Linked DNA regions of Homo sapiens: region 2 is linked to region 1. Evidence: fine-mapped expression QTL. A gene starts in region 1. The other region holds a variant in brackets. All regions are shown on one strand. Distances are from middle to middle. Region 1 holds the start of RYBP (RING1 and YY1 binding protein). Region 2 has its middle 95 kb from the start of RYBP.

The links. PIP is the estimated chance that this variant, and not a neighbour inherited with it, causes the effect.
Region 2: its variant is the best candidate, but not a certain one, in a credible set for the expression of RYBP in whole blood (INTERVAL, PIP 0.62).

What each region holds. Positions count from the first base shown.
Region 1 is chr3:72,444,487-72,449,860 of GRCh38, forward strand. RYBP (RING1 and YY1 binding protein) reads right to left here and starts at 2,137. Exons shown (of 4, transcript NM_012234.7): 1 at 2,010-2,137. The coding sequence starts at 2,137. RefSeq lists silencers at 2,454-2,513, 2,574-2,983.
Region 2 is chr3:72,348,733-72,354,106 of GRCh38, forward strand. No RefSeq gene overlaps it. Among named protein-coding and RNA genes, the nearest start is that of RYBP, 95 kb to the right of the region's middle. The variant G/A (reference allele first, on the strand shown) is at 2,498.

The DNA.
Region 1 (5,374 bases):
TCCAACCAACGATGACTTCTGAATAGATCTAAAACACCAAAATATTGACAATAACCAAAATGAAACCAACTGTGGCCAGCTAAGAGTGTCATGAATGCACACAGTTTTCAGTCCTCACACCTGTTAAATCTGTATTCAAATTCTATTAAATGACATCAGAAAATTACTCGAAGACCCTTAAAGTAGACGCCTTTCCCTGTTCCTGAATAGACTCTAAAATATTTTCACTGTAAATAATTCAGTAGTTTTAACTAAGTTTCAACAGTCATCTGCGGCTCTGAAAAAACTTTAAACATACATACATACCTTTTTTAAAAGTCAACACCTTCCATGTGCTTCCGAAAAATTGATGAGTAAGGTTTTTTAAAATACATGTTAAAAGCTGAAATGCACTTCATTATGAGATAATCATTCCCAGCGATAAATCAGACATAAACTTTTGAATTTGGTTTACGTTTCTCTTCACCAGTAATGTTCTCAAGTTCTTAGGAGTTTCCTAATCATTTACTTGAACACCATCTACGGTAACACTCAAAGCAAAACCACAATAAAGAGGTTTGGCCTCTGAGGGCTTCTACATGTAAAAAACATTACTCATAAATAATATACAATCACTACTGCTTTAAATAACAAATACATTTCTAAAAACTTTCATGCCATTTGATGGAATTCCCTATTTTAGACAGCAAAACAAAATCTATGAAACTACTGATGCGTGTTTTTTACTTTAGATATATTCCATGATAATACAAAACACCGACAAAAATTTCTTAAAACAACGTATGGAGTAATATTTTTAGTTTTTGATTATTTTTATTCAAAGGTATCATCATTTAAAGAGTGCAATTCACAGAAACAATAATTAGGCCAATTAATCTCAGAGTTAGATTATTTTAGGTTGCCCAATAATCCTATTTAATCCCAAGTATAAATAAACCAATGAAACCTTAACATGACATATTCATCTAATCAAAGAACAATATCCAGTTGGAACTGTGAAGTACTACTACACAGTCACACTGAAATGTCACCAATTCAAAAATAAGTACCTGATAAAATGAGACTTTTGGCAATCAACTGTAATGTTCTAAAGGATCCACCAAAAACTCATTCTTGTCTCACACACACACCCAATGCCTGTTCATTAAATGACACCAAGAACAGTTTAACTTCAAACTCTAACGCCAATGAAACAAATTCAGACATAAATTAAAAGATGACCAAAAGACTACATGAGTCTTGACATTTTATCCAAGTATTTATGAATGTTAAATCTAAAGTAGTTAACTCGTTTTAACATCACATGCAGTTTACGACCTTCATCAAAATGAAAAGGAATTCTTTCAACATTCTTTTCATCATCACAGAGCTTTAAACACAAACTTCCACAGTCACTGCTCATTTCACCATTTTACAAAATCGTCCCCCATCACCACCCCACATAAGCTAGTCAAAGAAAAAAAAAACTGACAGCTCAGTCTCCCACAAAATGCACTTACTTTATCAAATACCGACATTTATTTTCAAGTGCAAGAAAGTAACAGACATTTGCAGCTCAAGACAGGAAAAGCACAGCCAGCCTTACTACCCCCACTAAATTTCTCAGACAAGAGAAAAGTAACTCGGGACAGGCAAATTAAAACCATTCTACACATGGCAAAAATATAAAACATCTATGTCCTACAATCCATAGCGATAGTACTGCTTCCTCTCTTCCCCAGCCAATACCAATAAGCCAATAGACACAAGTGTCAAATAAATCCAGTGTCCGTTTGAAATAAAATGAAAACCTGGAAAAATTCCCTCCCATAAATCATTTAGCGAACACAAGGCTTTTCACCCAACACTTAATACACTCAACCCAAAAACACACACAACCCACCCGCAAATACAAAAAAAGCCGTAATCAACAAGTTGGAAAAAGGGCAGAAAGTAAGGCTCACTACCCTCTCACTTAAAAAAAAAAAAAAAAAGTCCTTTAACAAAAGGTAACACAGATCTTCAAGTACCTGGTGGAGGTGCCTTTCCTCACATCGCAGATGCTGCATTTAAAGGCTTCAGCACTGTTTCTGAAGGTGCAGACGCTACAATCCCAAAACCCTTCGTCTGCGGCAGGTTTCGCTTGTCTTTTTGGCCTTCCGAGGAGTGGAGAGTGGGGGAAAAGGGAGGGAAGAGGCAGGGAGCAGGAAAACGGGGGAGAGACAGCAAAACACAGACGCGGGTGAGCCGTCGTAATTTCGCAGGAATCCAGTGCTGGAAACTTCGCTCGGGAGACCACCCACCCACCCTTTCCGGGGACTGGAAGAGAGAGCGAGGAAGGGAACCGGGCGCCCCCACTGGCACCCTGCAAGCCCCGGGCCCGGGCCGGATAGCCTCGCACACCAGGCGGTGGCGGCGGCGCCCCGGGAAGGGCCGCGGCGGGCGCAGGAAGCGGGCGGACTTGTGGACTTGAGCGTGGGGCTGGGGGGGCCGGGAGGGGAGCCGCGGGCCGGATCTGGAGGGGGCGCGCAGGGGCAGCCCGAGGCCGGCGACGGGGAGTGGGCCGGCTCCTTCCCTCTCCACTCCCAAGCTCGCGCCCTCCCTCCCTCCCCACCTGGTTAAATCCATCACAGTCTCCGGACGAGACTAGTCCCCGCCAGCGCCGCCTCCGCCGAGTGACTGACGAGGGGCGGGGCCTGGCGCCGCGCGTCACGCGCCGTGCGGCCAATGGGAGGGCGGCGGCCGGCGCCGCGAGGGCGGAGGCGGGGCGCGGGGGAAGGCGGGGCGTGGCGGACGTGGGCCGGGCGGTCGGTGTGCGTGCCCGGGAGTGTGTGCGCGCTGGGGGCGCGCGTGCCTGTCGGTGGCCCCGCGGCCCGGCGCGGCGGAGCGTGCAAGCCCGGCGGGGCGCACGTGGCCGCGCCCGGGAGCTGGCAACTGGCTTCGGGCCCCGCACGGCGCCCCGTGAGGCTGTTGCCGGGACCCCGGCCCCGAAGCCGCCCCGGGGAAGTAGTTCCACGCAGTTTGCGCGCGCCGCGGGAGCTTGCAACAGCCTCACCGCTCGCAGCGCCTCGAGGCTTGCAGTGCCCAGGGGCCGACAAGGTCCACCTTTGGACCGCGTTCCCCCGCGCCCCTCTGTTCCTCTGCCATGCGGAGCTTTGTATTTGCCTCTTCTGAAGTCCCTGCGTCCGGCCGAGACGCTGGCCCGAAGCCCCACTCCCTGTCAGGCCCCTGTCGCGGGAGGGAACAGTAGAGAAAGGGCGTGGCATAACTAAATGCCCCCAGGCCAGACTCTGAGCTTCTGCTGGCGGACTCCTCCTGGGATCCTCCTCTCCCCTAGAGTCTAAATAGGGCGTTTCCTTAGGGAAGTTGCTATTCAAATTCTGGCGACCACATGCCCGCATTAAAACCTCGTGCCTCAGCTCCTTCATCTCCAAAATGGGGCTCATCCTCCCAGGGTTGTTTTGAATATTCGGAGAAATCAGGCATGGAAGGTTCGCTGATGGATGCCTGGTATTCACGAAGGACCAAAACAAGATATTGGGTATTAGGAGCTATTATAACTGGGCCTGAATTGTGCACCATTTCCCCCGCGTTCGATTTTTGAAGTCGAGGAACAGGGTAGTGCCCTTCACTTTCTGCCCTGCTCCAAAAACGCTTGCCAAATTGACTTGAACGTGACTCAGGACCCTCTGTCCTCAGGCAGGGAGATCTGGTAGGAGGACGACCCCAGATGATAAAAGACACAGACGCGGCTGTGCTGAAGCCCCAGGTTAGGGGAGGGACGGAGTCTTAGAATGCTGCTAGGAGTTGGGGCCCGGGGGTGGGGGGATTGGAGTTAAGACAGACCCTCAGCCAGGTTTATATGCAAATATAAAATAGGTTGTTATCAGGACTGCCCCATGGAAGGGAAGCATATCAGGGCTTGCCACCAGGGAAGCTCACTGAGACTGAGCACCCAGGGAGCAGAAATTCCTAGAGATCAGTCCAGGGATCAGAAGGGAGAGAATAAAAGAGAGAATGAATGTGTCAACAATAAGTTTGATCAGCACGCAGTGTCCTCTCCAGGCAGGCGCACCCAGGAGGGCCAGGAGAAGCAACACTGTTTAGCAAGGGTCAGCAACCTCTCAAGGCCTCAATGCCACAGCTGCCTCCTTAGGGGAGGGATGAAAGAAGGAAGAGGAAGAGAGAGGGATAGCGTTCTAGGGGTAAAAGGGCCGTAGAAAGCCAAAGGGTACGTACACAAGCCATGGCCCAGTGCAGCTGCGCCATGGAGCAGCCTTGGCCTCTGGTGTCTCCCTGGCATGCTCCCAGGACTCTGCCCCTGGCATGAAGGTCGTGACAGAAACGGGGCACTAAGAAATCCTCACTGGAAGAGTGGCCTCCGGGGAGGTAGCTGGGAGCCATAGTAGTGGAAAGGAGACTTTGTTATTATTCTATACATAGAATAAAATACACAAATTTTCACACTGCAGCTTAGTGCATACATCTACACCCCTCTTTCCACCATTAGAACAATAAAACATTTTATCCTCCCAATGAGTCATCCCTCACTTAGGTAACCACAATTCCGACTTCTGTCACCAAAGATTAGTTTTGCCTGTTCTTTAAGGTCATATGCAGGGGTCATATGGTCTGTACTCTTGTGTCTGGCTGGCACCTTTCGCTCAGCATATTTGTGATATCCATCCACGTTGTTGCCTACATCAATAGTTCATTTTTGTTTGCTTAAGTGTGTAGAATTCCATTGCAAATACACTGTAATTTATCCATAGGAGGTTGACTGTTTTAGTATGTCGTTTTGTATCTTTGTCTTGTGTTATCTTTTCAAAAAAGAAAAAGTTTTTAAAAATGTGTTTAAGAAGGGCCAGGCACGGTGGCTCACACCTGTAATCCCAGCAGTTTGGGAGGCCGAGTGGGTGGATCACCTGAGGTCAGGAGTTCGAGACCAGCCTGGCCAACATGGTGAAACCCTGTCTCTACTAAAAATAAAAAAAAAATAGCCGGGCGTGGTGATGGGCGCCTGTAATCCCAGCTACTCGGTAGGCTGAGGCAGGAGAATTGTTGGAACCAGGGAGACGGAGGTTGCAGTGAGCCAAGATTGCACCATTGCACTCCAGCCTGGGCGACAGAGCAGGACTCCGTCTAAAAAAAAAAAAACCAAAAAATCAAAAAAATGTGTTTAAGAAAAACAATTTCAGAGTAGAGAACTATCTCTAGGAACTTATCAGACCCAAGGATCACCATGTGGTTGTAACTTTAGAGGCTCTAATTTCATTCAGATGTTGGAGGCAAATATCTATTGAAAGTCTCCTTGTAGTTGTATGAGTCAAATGGGACTATTTCTGGTACAGTGTGCTCCAGAGTGCTGTGGCTCTAGGCAGAGCGTACTGTGATT
Region 2 (5,374 bases), 96 kb before region 1:
CTAGTATAAGTCACTGGCCCAGTTTGGGTGAGATGACCAGCCCAGAGACAGTCATATGGACAAGGATTTGCAGCAGTATTTCCATTGGCCAGGAATGGATCAGGTGTCCACCCCTGACGTTGGCAGGCCAGGGCAGTAACCTCTCACCCTCAAATCACAGGGACCGAGAATGAGGAGAGGTGATTCTCTAAGAGGAGATTGGGAATTACCAGCTGAATGGAGGCTTCACAAGCAGAACTGGTGGACATCCCCTACAGCCTCTCTGTGTTTCTCCCTTTAGTCTTTAGTAAAGTTTTTTTCTTTTTTTCTTTTTTTTGTTTTGTTTTGTTTTGGGAAAATTTCCAACCTCATTCTCATGGAAAGAAGAGGCAAAAGTTTTTAAGGCAAGGTGGTCTTGCAGTAAGCTGCCATTGTGTGGAGATGGGACTGCAGAGGAAGTGGGTTGTGCATCTGCTTTGTACAGTGATGGAATGCTTGGCTTCTTTTGGCCAACAGAATGTAAGTGAATGTGAGGTGAGCAGAGGTTTTAAATGTGCTTGCTGGTTTGGCTGGGTCTTTTGTACTTCTGCCATTCCCCATAAGACATCCTCTGTGAAACCTCTGATTCCAGAATGAAGCACATGGAACATTCCTGATCCTAACCCAAAGCCTAGAGCAGATCTACCCCCAGATGACCCACAGACCCAAGAGCAAGACAAAGAAAGAGTGTTGGTTGTGAGCCCCTGAGATTTTGTGGGGGTGCTTGTCATGCAGCATATCACAGTGCAAAATCTGACTAACACACTTTGAAAGTCTAGGGGTTCTTCCATTGAGGGAGGCCACTACTCTTGGAAGTAAACAGTCTGTCAGGAAGTGGGTCCTCTGAGCCGTGGCCACTCTATATTCTTCCCAAGATGCCCTAGGAACACAGAAGGGCTCAACCACCATATTTCAACCCCCACCCAGCAGAGTCTCCAGAAGGAATTTCAGCATCTTTTCTGGAGCAATCTGCCCTACCCTGCATCCTGAGTCTCCCGGGATCTTTACCAGCTGCGTGGCCATAAGCAAGTTAATTGCCCTCTTTCAGCCTTAGTTTCTTCACCTGTAAAAGGGAATGATACTAATCCTTAGCTTTTGGAGGAACTAATGGACAGAATGCATGTAAAACACACATTTATAGCACCTGGCACATGATAAATAGTTCAAAAAATGTTAGGTTTATAATTATTTGTTTTTGAAATTGCTGGAAGAGCAAAAATGCATTTGACTGTTCAGTCTGCTCCTCTAAGCCTTGGGAACACCATGCAATTGGTGTGTCTGTTCTCCGGAGCAGACAAACCCCCGGGTGCCTAAACTCAGAAGAGGCATTTGGGCCACTGAAGAAGCAAATTTTGATTGGTTTTGTTTTGGTTTGTTGGGGTTTTTTTCTCCCTCAATTTTTGGCTTCTGTTTTAGTTACTTGAAATCACACAGCCGATTTATTTATTTTGATTGCTCTTCACACAAGTAAAAATAAAACAAAGAAGTGCGAACAGTGACAGCCTTTGCTACAACTTTACTCAGGACAAAGAACCGTGGCTAGAAGAAAAGTCACAATTCCATTAAGTGGGAAAACACTGAACTCTCACGCTTCGTTTCCATCGGAAATTTACTATGAGGTGGGATTTTCATGCCAATTGACAAACCAGCGCCCAGTTCAGACTCCTTCAGGCTCTGCCTTCCTCAGCCTCCTGTCCCCTACTGTGCAGTGTGGAACTTGGAACGAAAATAGTGATCATTCTTAAATTATTATAATAGAAGAACAGCCACGTATTGGGCGCTGACCAGGTACCAAGCACCATGCTCAGTGCTTGATGTGCTAAGTGCTTCATTTAGTTCTCACCACATTGCTGGGAGGCTGCTATGCGTTCTCTCTCAGCCGAGGAAACTGCCACTCAGAGAATGTAAATAATGTGTCCACAGCTAGATGTGGGGAAGATCTGGGACTTGAACCCAGCTCTACTTCCAAAGCTTGTGCCCGAAACCCTATTTTGGGCCACAGTGCATGGTCCATTGTCCCGAGGACTCTGAGGTCCTGAGTCCTCAGAGGAGGCTGGGTAAGTGACAATCATGTGCGGAACCCCAGAAGGCAGCTCAGCTCCAGGGCCTGCCTTCTTCTATTTATGCATGATCTGTCCCAGCCTGTGAATTGGCCCCGTGGCTCCCCGCATGTCCTGGAAGAGGTGGATCACAAAGCTGCAGCTCCTTCAGGCCCCTCTCTGGCCACATCCAGGAAAGAAAGGAAGAACCTTCTGCCCTCACAGCAAACTGCCCAGTTCCAGCCTTGGAGGCAGGCAGCCTTCTCCACTGCCAAGGGCACTGAGTTAGGAGTGGCACAGCCACGTCTGACCTCTTCCCGGCCGTGTGGCCTAATCTCCCTGAGCCCCAGTTTCCCCATGTATAAAGCAGTGGCATAAACTTGTCTCAGTGGTTTCCAGACATTGTCAGTCAAGGAAAGCACTGATGAAAGCGCTCGCAG[G/A]TCTCTGTGTGTGCAAAACCAATGAAAGAGCAGCTGTTCCAGACAAAAGAGGCCTGGGTCTTGGCGCCCCTCAGTCTCCGTAGGGAGCAGTCACGATACTCCTGACCTAGCCCATCCCGGAGGCCCCACCCAGCTCTGACTTTCTGTGAATCTTGGATCTTGACACACGTCCCACCAGAAAGGTTTTTCTTCCCAAATGTGCTCATCAAAACTCTTGGGGTGCAAGAGACAAAAACTCAATTCGAACCAAGTTAAGCAAAAAGAGAAAGGTATGGGCAAGGTCCCTAAAATTCCATCTTGTCTTTTCTCAAAATCGAGCTGATCTTTGTAACGAGGAAAGCAGACGCTGTCACTCCCTGGCTTAAGGCCTTTCTTACATGGCTTTCCTTCTTAAATGGACCTGGGGAAAGGTGTGAATGCCTTACTTTAGCCTGTAAGTACGCGCACATTCTGGTCCCTGATTCTCACACCAACCCCATTTTGAGCCGTTCCTGCCTCTGGGCCTTTGCACATGCTATGCCCCCTACCTGAGATGACTGTCCCCTATCTCTTCCATATCCAGCTCTTTCTCACCATTCACGCTTCCGCTCAAATGGCAGCCCTTCACAGTAGCCTTTCTTGTCCACCCCAACTTAATTAGCCCACCCTTTTTACCCCCAATCACTCCTTAGCCCCTCACCTGGCGTTATTTTCTTATCATACTCTGTAATAGTCTTATCTATTTGCTTACTTATTTACTGTCTGTCTCCTCGTTAGAATGTCCATCGCATAAGGCAGTTTGCATTGCTTCCTGCAGTATTCCTGACATCTAACACCACTCTTGCCCATGTCCAAGTGCCCCATAAATGATTGTCGAATGAAGGAGTAGATGATTGACAGTGACGCTCCATGTTTTATCAAGTTCAGACTCCTCAGATTCAACATGTACCTATAAACTGGATCCTCTTGCTTCTCTCAGTGAGAAGCCACACCGCCCAGCCACATCTGTAAGCCTGTCCATCCCTGGCACCTCCCTCCCATCTGCACGTCCTGCCAATCTACCCCTAATTTCTCAAAGCCATCCACCCCTCTCCATCTTCTCCACTCCCTTCGAGACCAAGCTCCCATCTCTCTCTTGGGGCACCTGCAGCAGCCTCCCTGAGATCTCCAGAATCCCTTCTTGCCCACTTCCAACCTGATTGCCCCAGTGCTACCCTGAGAGTGTCACCCTTTGCTGATAAGTTATCAGTTTGACCATCTGATACATTCCAAAGAAGCTCAGATGCCTTCCCACGGGCTGCAGGCTCCATATGGCCTGGCCTCCCGCTGCCCCTTGCAGCTCAGAGCACTTATCACAGTTGGTTCATACATTTACACTGTGAACACTGGATCGAGTCTCTCCCCTACCTCACTATACACTCCATCGGGGGAGTGACCTTGTCTGGCTTTGCTGCATTCCTGGCATTTGGTGGATGTTTGCTTGATAAATATGGGTAAATGAATAAATAAATAAATGCTGCTGAATACCTATATATGCCAGATATTAAGCTAACATGGAAATAAATTATTTCATTTTTTTCAACAATCTTATGAGGATGAATGATTGAACAAATGAATGAATGAACTATAAACTAACAAGGGAGGAGTCACCATCCAAAAGCACACAGGAGGCCAGACATGGTGGCTCACACCTGTAATCCCAGCATTTTGGGAGGCCAAGGCGGGCGGATCACTTGAGCCCAGGAGTTTGAGGCAGGTGGATCACTTGAGGCCAGACTGGCCAACATAGTGAAACCCCATGTCTACTAAAAATACAATAATTAGCCGGGCTTGGTGGTGCACGCCTGTAGTTCCAGCTACTTGGGAGGCTGAGGAAGGAGAATTGCTTGAACCCAGGACGCAGAGGTTGCAGTGAGCAGAAATTGCAGCCTGGCGACAGAGTGAGTGAGACTCCATCCCCCAAAAAAGATATACAGGAGCCAGGAGGGCATGTAAACAAGTGAGAGGAGAAGCGCCGGTGTAAGATACTCACAAATGGATGGTACCATGGCAAAACGAAGTGCCATGGCATCTGTTATGGACTGAATTACACCCCCCCAAAATTCACATGCTGAAGTCCTAACCCCTGGTATCTCAGAATGCAACCTTATTTGAAGATGGGGACTTTACAGGGATAATCAAGTTAACGTGAGGTCATTACAGTGGGCCCCGATCCAGTGTGACTAATGTCCTTATAAAAAAGGGAAATTCAAGCACAGACGTGTACAGAAGGAAGACAGTGTGAAGATACAGGGAGAAGATGGCCATCTACAAGCCAAGGAGAGAGGCACAGAATAGATCCATCCCCTACAGCCCTCAGAAGAAACCAAGTCTGCCCATGCCTTGATCTCAGACTTCCAGCCTCCAGAAGCACGAGACAATTTCAGTTGTTTACTCCACCCAGTTTGTGGTACTTTGTTACGGCAGCCCCAGGGAACAAATACAGCATCCAAAGGCATCCACGTTCAAAAGCGTTTTTCAACCCTGGCTAGGCCAAATAAGATTTGTCTGGAGGCCACGTTCTGCCCGAGAGGGCGCAGGTGGCAACCCCTGCAGCCTGGAGAGTTCTCAGAGCACACCCTGTCCACCAGGGAATTGGCACTGTGGGAGGCTGAGGTCAAACAGATCAAATGGGAATTCAATTATGGTTTGGAGACGAGTCCGTGAGGTCACAGATTAAATGAGGGCAGGGACTGCAGCCTGGGCCTCGCTGTGGTGTTCATGCTCCGGGCTCCAGAAGCTGCACTCCTGCCTGTCACAGAGCCGGACGAGGCCCAGCCTGCTTGTCACATAGAGAAGAAACCGAAATTTAAAAGATAGATAGGTCAGATCAGTTTATATGTGGCTGTGGACTAATAC